Linked DNA regions of Homo sapiens: all the other regions are reported to be linked to region 2. The links are microRNA targets in miRTarBase. Many come from high-throughput screens and were not tested one by one. Region 2 holds a microRNA gene; each other region holds the end of a gene's coding sequence.
Evidence for each region. Region 2 holds the annotated microRNA hsa-miR-124-3p (UAAGGCACGCGGUGAAUGCCAA, at 1,809-1,830, shown strand). A microRNA usually pairs through its seed, bases 2 to 8, with sites in the 3' UTR of a target mRNA and lowers its output. Matches are read on the target gene's strand: a 7mer-m8 pairs with bases 2 to 8, a 7mer-A1 pairs with bases 2 to 7 and ends in A, and an 8mer does both.

Region 1: miRTarBase lists CDON as a target of hsa-miR-124-3p. Seed matches in the 3' UTR shown: 7mer-A1 at 2,298-2,304 and 7mer-m8 at 1,660-1,666.
Region 3: the mRNA of VIT is a reported target of hsa-miR-124-3p. The part of its 3' UTR that is shown has no 7-base or 8-base seed match.

The regions. Positions count from the first base shown.
Region 1 is chr11:125,958,462-125,961,461 of GRCh38, forward strand. CDON (cell adhesion associated, oncogene regulated) reads right to left here. Exons shown (of 20, transcript NM_001378964.1): 20 at 1-2,644. The coding sequence ends at 2,481. Among named protein-coding and RNA genes, the nearest start is that of VSIG10L2, 14 kb to the left of the region's middle.
Region 2 is chr20:63,176,744-63,180,088 of GRCh38, forward strand. MIR124-3 (microRNA 124-3) reads left to right here and starts at 1,757; the gene lies at 1,757-1,843. RefSeq lists an enhancer at 1,004-1,964 and a silencer at 2,252-2,541.
Region 3 is chr2:36,813,695-36,817,039 of GRCh38, forward strand. It overlaps VIT (vitrin), which reads left to right. Exons shown (of 16, transcript NM_053276.4): 16 at 489-1,100. The coding sequence ends at 667. Among named protein-coding and RNA genes, the nearest start is that of VIT, 120 kb to the left of the region's middle.

The DNA of each region.
Region 1 (3,000 bases), not on the chromosome of region 2:
ATTAGGTAGGACTGTTTGGGTGCCTGTGCAGGGCAGAGCCAACTCACGCTTAGGGAGAACTCATACCGCCTAAATATAAAGGCAATTATATATATATATATATATGTGTGTGTGTGTGTGTGTGTGTGTGTTTATATATATATATTTATATATTTCAATATATAAAGGCATTTTTTATAAATAAAATACAATAAAAAGAATAACACTTAAAACAGCGTTACTAATAATATAAATAAAGCAGTCCACAATGAGATTGTCCTAAAGGTAAAGCCATTTTCTCTTCCTCGTGGACAGATCCCATATTCAAACTCAATCTTTAAAAGCAGTTCATGACCTAAGGCTCATGCTAATACACCTGTTTCCTAAATCAAAATGGCTGTCTACGGACAATGACTCCCCAGTTTTCTAAAACTCCCTTTGTGACAGCATTGCTGTAACTTGATTGGCTAACACAGGGTATGTTTTCATATTCTGTGCGCTGGGACTTTGTCCTTTGCTAGTCACAGAAGTAAGGGATGCAGCTATCCCCCTCCAGAGCTAACTGCATTTAAGCAACATGAAGAATAAATCCAGTATACTATAGGCACGGACATCTGGAATGTAGAACTTGGGTCTACAGCATCCCTAATATCCGACTAGGGAATTACATTCACTACATTCTACTGGAAGTAACTCTTGCATAGTGACCCAGCTTAAACAAGCACATTTTCACTAACAGTTCTATTATAAAATATATAGACATATGTAAGGGAATACTGATGCATTTATACAGAAAGTTGGTTAACACAGTATTGTATTCTATTCCACTGCGATTTCTGGGAAACTAACATTTCTTCACTTCTGCTGGAATTGCTTGACTCTATAGAAAGAGAATAATTTTCTGTTTCTTTCCCCAAAGGGATGCACAATGCACAAAGGAGCAGTGATCCTTGAAAGCTTGACTCAAGCTATGAAACACACTTACATAATTATTGTTTTTTAATGTGAAGAGCCTTCCAAAGGCAGCTGCAAATGTCCTTGTCACGCAGAGGCAGCCGTGGTCAGGAGCTCTGCTGACCAACTTGGCTTTAGGTGCCTATTTACAAGGGTGACATTCTGAAAAAGGTATCAGGAAATTTCAGGAAAAAAACCCAAAACAAACAAACAAAAAAAAACAAAAAACAAACAAACAAAAAAAAACCCTTTTCTTCCAAAGTAAGTCTTTTCTGACACTCACCCCTGCAGGCCGTTGCCTATGCTGGAGATGGGGGATGACTAGTTTCGGCGTCATGGCACCATAAGCGTGTCCCTGTGCTAATCCAACAGACTGGAGAGCTCCCGCCAAGACAGGCTCCCTGCAGCCCTCCCCTTTCTTTCTTCTGAAAATGTGTATCTTTCTCTTCAAGCCACCATTTAATGTCTTATTTTGTTCCTACTCCGAGAAACAGTCAAAAAGAGCCCATAGTGGCCATTTTATAAATTAATGTAATTTTAAAGCAGTGGGACATGAGGCATTATTTGTCTCTCTGGCCTTGGTTCCTTTTCTGCATACTGCCGTAATTCATCAAGACCTTACACTCCACCACGTCCATAACACTATGACTAGTGCCTAGCAAACTGAACATCACTCGTGCCCACGTGCAGATACAAAGTCAACAGGTCACATTACCACTTCTGTGGAAGGCACTCTTGTAAAATCCGTCAGCCAGGTCTGTTATTATAAACATGGGTCACAACTGCAGTTGATTTCAAAGTGTTCTCAGGAAGTCTGATAATACAGGCCAGACGTGGTGGCTCACGCCTGTAATCCTCGCACTTTGGGAGGCGGAGGCGGGTGGATCACTTGAGGTCAGGAGTTCAAAACCAGCCTGAAACCTTGTCTCTAATAAAAATACAAGACAATTAGCTGGACGTGGTGGCAGGTGCCTGTAGTCCCAGCTACTCAGGAGGCTGAGGCGGGAGAATTGCTTGAACCTGGGAGGCGGAGGTTGCAGTGAGCCAAGATCGAGCCATTGCACTCCAGCCTGGATGACAGCAAGACTCCATCTCAAAAAACAAACAAAAAAAAGTCTGAGAATACACTATTGAAAGACCATTTTCCACCTGAAAACCCAGCTGGTGGCAACCTTCAACGGGCCCCTGCATTCCCTCCTAGCCGAAGCAGCCAAGAGATGGGATCCTTTGCATGAGGAGCTCTTGCTGTCACTATAGCTGTTAGAAAACATGGAAGGACCCCTCTGCCCTCCAGGTGACTGAATACTATGCAAAACAAGGTTGTTTCCTACCGAGGGGGAGGAAGGAATGGGGAAGAAAACATTTAAGGCATAAATAATATAAAAGGGCACACGTTTTAAGATACATTCATATGACATTACTACTACAAAAAAATAAATAATGATTTTCTCTGATTTGAATTAAGGTCCTTCACACAGTTCGCTCCCAGGCCTGTTGTGTGCAGTTACCGGCTTGAAGTTGGAACATGACTGGTTGTTTGCATGTCCTCAGGTTTCCCGGGGCTGCTGAAGGACCTCTGTCGGGCTGTCTAAAGGAATGCCAGGTGGAGACCACATTGTCTTCTCAGCACAGCCCTCGGGGACAGGTGGCAAAATAAGAGCATTCCAACTTACAATGTTGATCTCTGTTTCTGAATGGGCACAGCTGTCTCCTGAAACACAGCAGGGTTTGGGAGCATTATCAAATGATAAAGGCTGATTTTTACAAAGCAGTCTAAAAACTTCTTCACACTTTGAGCCAAGAAGAAAGAAAAACGAGCATAAATAGAACCTGGTTTGTGTGTGGTTTGAATTTGAGGGCGACAGAAGGTTTAAAAGGTTTAAAATAAAGTTGAGCTCTCATGAGAAGCTATACAATTCACCTGAGAAGTAAAGCAACCCCTTAAAAGCCCTAAAATAACCACCTGAAAGAAAGGTTACAACTCCAGAACCAACTCAAATCAAAAAGGGGCTCATGTTCACAAAATGCATTCTTCCAGCAAGTCTTCTGCTACCCTACGAATGAAAT
Region 2 (3,345 bases):
TAAACAAAGGCCAGCGGGGGAGGCTCCGGACGGTGAGGCTTGGGGAAGCCACTGATCCCTGGCCCTAGAGGGCCAGATCGGGGGCGCCCCAAGGACCCTATCGAGCTGGCAGTGACTGCAGTCGGGCCGTGGAGTGTCGCCTGTGATTCCGTGGTCCCTACGGGCAAGAGCTCCCATCCCGGTCTGAAACTGTGAGAACCGCAAGCTCCGATGGGGGCGGGGAAGGACGACCTTTAATTCCCACCCCACTGTACGGAGCCCAGCAGGGCCATCCGCAGGAGGCCGGCGGGACCCTTGCCTTTCTCAGGACTGAGAGGCTTGGAGGACCGCGGTGTGAGCTGCGCGGCAGAGTGCGTTCTGCAGGCGCCAGACAGGAGACGCGAACCCGCGGTCAGGGCCCGAGTGCGGGTGCGTGTCTGCGGGTGCCGCTGGGCTGCGTGCCGGCGAGGCGTGCGCGTGGCGAGGCGTGCGCGTGGCGGGGTGTGGCTAGAGGTGTCAATGTGCAGCTGGAGGGGCTGCGCGCGTGGGTGCAGGAGGGCCATGTGAGGGGCTGGAGTGTGTGGGAGACAGGCGTTTCCTTGGGTCTCCGTGTGGCCGCCGGGCGCAGGGCACGGTCGAGGGCGCTCGATGGCTGAGTCCGCGTGAGCCGAGGAGCGCGCGGGGCGGGACGCGGTGCGAATGCGCGGGAGGCACGAGGCGCGCAGTGCGTGTGTGCGCGTGTGCGCGGCGCGCGTGCCCCGCAGTTCTCAAGGACACCTCGGGGAGGCAGCGGCGGGGCCGGTGTCCGGGTGACGTCACCGCGCGCCCCAGTGATAATCGGCCGGTGCCGGAGCGGAGCGCGGATACGCGCGGAGGCAACGGCGACGGCGGCGGCGGCGGCGGGCGCGGGGACAGTTGCATCGGGGCCGGGCCGGGCTAGCAGGAGCTGGGCGCCTGCAGCGTGGACCCCGTGGACACTCGGCTCGCAGCCGGCCTGCGGCGCTCGGGGACTTGCCTGGCTCCCTTCTCGGGGTTCCCGCGCCCTTCTCCGCCCAGGGCAGCAGCGCGCGGGGCCCCCGGGAGCCGAAGAGCAGGCGGGAACTGGCGGCGGCGCGGGAGGCGCAGGGAGCGGAGGCGGCAGCAGCGGCTCCCGCCGGGACTGGTAATTACGCTCGGGGCCGGGCCGGGGCGAGCCGGGCAAGCGGCCTCTCTGGGTCTCCCCGTCTTTCTCTCCACGAACAGCTCGAGCGCCTTCTCGCGGGCCCGCTGCGCGCGGAGAGGACGAGCTCGCTGGGTTGTAAAAAGAGACGAGTTTTCATCTTTGAGCATCGAGATTCGTTCTTTTAACCGCATTCGGTGCGCGCTCCTGGGTCGGCACGGGCAGGGCGACGGCAGGGGAAGGCAGCTGCGGAGGAGCTCGCGCCGCCCAGTCGGAGCGGTTCTGCGCCCCTCGGAGCCCCGCGGGAGGCGGCCGGGTGCGCACGCGCTCACCACCCCCACCCCCGGAATCCGTCTTCGCGATTCCCGGGCGCCCCAGCTCCAGGAACGCCCGGAGGGACGCACTTGGGGGCCCACTCTCTGCCGCGGAAAGGGGAGAAGTGTGGGCTCCTCCGAGTCGGGGGCGGACTGGGACAGCACAGTCGGCTGAGCGCAGCGCCCCCGCCCTGCCCGCCACGCGGCGAAGACGCCTGAGCGTTCGCGCCCCTCGGGCGAGGACCCCACGCAAGCCCGAGCCGGTCCCGACCCTGGCCCCGACGCTCGCCGCCCGCCCCAGCCCTGAGGGCCCCTCTGCGTGTTCACAGCGGACCTTGATTTAATGTCTATACAATTAAGGCACGCGGTGAATGCCAAGAGAGGCGCCTCCGCCGCTCCTTTCTCATGGAAATGGCCCGCGAGCCCGTCCGGCCCAGCGCCCCTCCCGCGGGAGGAAGGCGAGCCCGGCCCCCGGCGGCCATTCGCGCCGCGGACAAATCCGGCGAACAATGCGCCCGCCCAGAGTGCGGCCCAGCTGCCGGGCCGGGGATCTGGCCGCGGGACACAAAGGGGCCCGCACGCCTCTGGCGTCGCGGGGCGGGTGGGGGCGGCCGAGGGCGGCCGAGGGGGGAGCCTGCGGCCGGGGCCAGGCTGCGGCCAGCCGGCCCCCGGCCACGTGTGTCCGCAGCGCGGAGCGCCCAGGCGCCCGCAGAGGGCGGCGGGGCCCGGGAGACAAAGGGAGGGTCCACGGGGAGCGGCGGGCGGGTGCGTGGGGCGGCGGGCTAGGGTGCGGCGCTGTCCGCGGTGCTGGCGGCGGGGCGGCCCCCGCGGGACGGGAGGGCGGCCAAGTGCGGCCCTCGCCCCCACAGCGGGCGCCCTGGACAGTTGCCACGGCAACGTGGGAGGAGGTGGGGCAGGGTCTGAGGTCACCGCTAAGTCTGCCCTTCCTCGGGCCGCTGCGCCGCGGGGCGGGGCGGAGGCGGCGCTCGCTGTGGCCCCAGAGCAGCCCCCGCAGCCCAGGACCAGGCTTGCATGGGGACGGGGGTCTGCGTCCGCGTCCAGGGTCCAAACGAGGGCGGTGGACACGCCGGACCGCATCCCGCCCCCAAAGCCGGCTCTGGGCTGTGCAGGACCAGGCACGTGAGACTCCGCAGCCCAGGGAGAAAATGACAAATCCCTCCCCCGCCGCCATCTGCAGCCGCAGTGACACCCACTCGGGTTTGCTGCAGGGGTTTTTTTTCTGTCCCCGGAAGCCAGCGCCACCTGCTGACGCCCGGCACCGCCTCTGCGCCGCCTCCCCCGCGCCCATCCCAGGCCCCGGCTGGGCTGTGATGCCCCGGTAACAGTCAGAGGACGACCCCCTCCCCAAAAGCCCCCTTCCCCTGGGGCGAGTGCCAGACCTGGCTTTGCAGCTTTGCCTCTTTCCTCTTAACCAGGTAGAGGCTGAGCCTCTCCTCCCCGGCTTCAATCCGAGGCAGGAGTCTGAGTCACCTGAAGTTCTCCCAGCTCCAGGCCCAAGGCAGGGAGCAGAAGATCAGGATAAAAGGAACCATTTGAGTTTCAGGCAGTGGCATCTCCACCCCCACCACCGCCGCTGCAGGGCCACAAAGGGAACCTGCCTCTGCGGCTGTCCTCAGCACAGACCTCCAGCCCCTCCACCCAAGTCGCCTGCTGCAGACACAAGCAGGAGCCACTGGTGCCTCCATCTTCCCACCCCCACCCCAGTCAGCCAGGCAGAGTCAGAACACGGTCCACCAGTCTCCTCAGGGGCAGGTTCCCCCTGGAGGGCACAGAAGTGGCATAGGCAGCCCCAGCAAGCCCCGGCCTGACCACAACACTGACCCCGGGGCTTGGCGTCCCCTTCTTCCTTCCTCCCGCTGTGAGGGGACAGGC
Region 3 (3,345 bases), not on the chromosome of region 2:
TAGTTTAAAAGATCTTGAACCAGCTTTTGATGGCATTTAAGGCTCTCTCAGATTTTGCTTGGCTCTTCCCACTGGTAGAGCAGGCATGTGTCATGTATTCTGATCTGCATGGCCCCAAAAGTTTCACTTGTCCCAAAATATCTTCCCCTCTTCTATTCCCAAACATGAAATTCTTACCATGTTATTTACTCCATTTTGTTCATTGTTTCCTAAAATACTATAAACTCCTGAGATAACAATTATATAAACGTTGTTACTGTTGGCATAGAGTGTATGCTCAAAGGCATTTATTGAGTGAATAAATGAATGGCCATACTTAGTCTTTATTCTGGAAACCTAGAGGCCTGTAGCGTATTTTTGGTTTTGTTTTGTTTGGGCATATTTCTGATTTTGGATTTGGCTGTGCCAACAGGGCCACAAGAAGAGAGAGATTCTTTAGCAGCACCTTTACTTGGGGACATTTGTTCATCTAACCTTTGTCCCCACAGGAGTGATCACCTATGCGATAGGCGTTGCCTGGGCTGCCCAAGAGGAGCTAGAAGTCATTGCCACTCACCCCGCCAGAGACCACTCCTTCTTTGTGGACGAGTTTGACAACCTCCATCAGTATGTCCCCAGGATCATCCAGAACATTTGTACAGAGTTCAACTCACAGCCTCGGAACTGAATTCAGAGCAGGCAGAGCACCAGCAAGTGCTGCTTTACTAACTGACGTGTTGGACCACCCCACCGCTTAATGGGGCACGCACGGTGCATCAAGTCTTGGGCAGGGCATGGAGAAACAAATGTCTTGTTATTATTCTTTGCCATCATGCTTTTTCATATTCCAAAACTTGGAGTTACAAAGATGATCACAAACGTATAGAATGAGCCAAAAGGCTACATCATGTTGAGGGTGCTGGAGATTTTACATTTTGACAATTGTTTTCAAAATAAATGTTCGGAATACAGTGCAGCCCTTACGACAGGCTTACGTAGAGCTTTTGTGAGATTTTTAAGTTGTTATTTCTGATTAGAACTCTGTAACCCTCAGCAAGTTTCATTTTTGTCATGACAATGTAGGAATTGCTGAATTAAATGTTTAGAAGGATGACATGCAATGTTTCTGACTGTGTCTTTTGTACACAAGTTTCGTGGCAGGGCCACCATTTGCTCTCCTCAGTTCCCAGAGCAACTTCTCTGGGCTCACAACTGGCCTAAGGTAACAACACACCTGTAGAGGTGCAGAGACAATGTACAGTGATGTTGCTTCTCCTGATGTGCCTCCCTCGCTGTTGTCTGAGTCGATGAATACTTGCCACATGATGCTTTAGGAGCAGCCAGCTCTTGAGGACCAAGCTGATCTTGCTTAAAAGTGGGGCAGTAGACCAGGCGCGGGGGCTCACGTTTGTAATCCCAGCACTTTCAGAGGCTGAGGCAGATGGATCGCCTGAGGTGAGGAGTTCGAGAACAGCCTGGCCAACATGGTGAAACCTCGTCTCTACTAAAAATACAAAATTAGCATGGTGGCACGAACCTGTAGTCCCAGCTACTTGGGAGGCTGAGACACAAGAATTGCTTGAACCCAGTAGGTGAAGGTTGCAGTGAGCCGAGATTGTGCCACTGCACTCCAGCCTGGGCCACAGAGTGAGACTCTGTCTCCAAAACCAAAAGTGGTGTAGTAGGCTGTGCATTAGAATCACTTAGGAGACTACAGTGCTGGTTCCCAAGCTCCACCGCAGTACCAGTGAAATCTGAGTCCCTGGGATTGGAGCTTGAACATTGGCACGTTTTAAGAGCTCTCTGGTGATTTGTATCTGCTGCCGTGATCTAGAAGCACTGAGCTACCCTTGAGGAGTTAGTGTTACATTTCCCCAAAGAGGCCCCATTTTTACCTGCTGCCCTGGGTCCATCCAGTTGAGCATTTCTCTTGGATTTCTCATTTGTTAACCAAATATTATTGCTAGCTGCATTAAAATAAGCTGGGATGAGTTTGGTTGCACTTCACTTTTTACTTCCAGCTTCTCCAAAGACTCACCTATCAGCATGTGAAATATATGTGTAATTGGGAAATGTCCAAAAGAATTATAAATAGAGATGACTTACTTGATAGGTTATGTTTTATAAAAATATATTGTGAAGAATACTACTCTGAATGGGAGCAGAAACAGTAATTGTGTCAATATTTGGGACAAAATATTTACATAAAAAATTAGAATCGAGGATATCATTCAGTCAGCAGAATTTACACTGAGCTTACCAAATTTCTTAATAGCTGAAGAGAGAGTATATTGTCAATTGAAAATATTGTGGTCTACAGAGAAGAATCAATTAAAGGTGTCAACAATTTCAGATTTATTTGCCATAAAATTTACTTTGAATGCAATTACAATTTTGTCCAAAAACTTCAAAATATAAATCTGGGTTTTTTTTTAAAGGAAATTCTTCAGAAAGATACTGGTGACACTCTATTCATGCCAGACTCAGCTAAGAAGCTAATTTAGGCCGGGCATGGTGGCTCATGCCTGTAATCCCAGCACTTTGGGAGGCCAAGACGGGTAGATCACAGGAGATCAGGAGTTCAAGAGCAGCCTGACCAACATAGTGAAACCCCGTCTCTACTCAAAATACAAAATTAGCTGGGCATGGTGGTGCATGTCTGTAGTCTCAGCTGCTTGAAAGGCTGAGGAAGGAGAATCGCTTGAATCTGGGAGGTGGAGGTTGCATGAGCCGAGATGGTGCCACTGCACTCCAGCCTGGGTGACCTGGGTGACAGAGTGAGCAGAGTGAGTTTGAGACTCCGTCAAAAAAAAAAAAAAAAAAAGCTAATTTTAAAAACTTAAAGAAGGACTAAGAACGATTATTCCGCCTACATCTTTGCATGTGAAGATAAACCCCATAAAGGAGTTTTTCAACATTGCTTCCATGTACACATACAAGTTATTTGGATTTTTTAAAGAAATATTTTATTTTGGAAAATGGTTTTTGAATCTAGTTATTTTATAGGGGCCTTAATATAAAAACCAATTTGTCATCAATAAGTAAATATTTCCAAAAGTAATATAATTTTAATTATTTTGGTGTCCTCTTTCACTCACAAACCTGTCCCAGTTAGGAAAATAAATGATATGGTCACCCTAGTTATAGGCATTATAAATTTGAGGATAACTGGCACCTCTTCCAATGAGTCTGTTGTCTACGCATTGTCAACAAATATTGAGTGTATGCTATGGGGGCGGGGACAAAGGTCATAGGGAGTGAGACACTCAAAGGCTATGGTGGCATCAGAATTGTCGGTATGGATGTTCCAGTCACCAAAGACAATGACAGGAGTCGGGATGGAGAGAATATAGCCAGGCTCTGGCA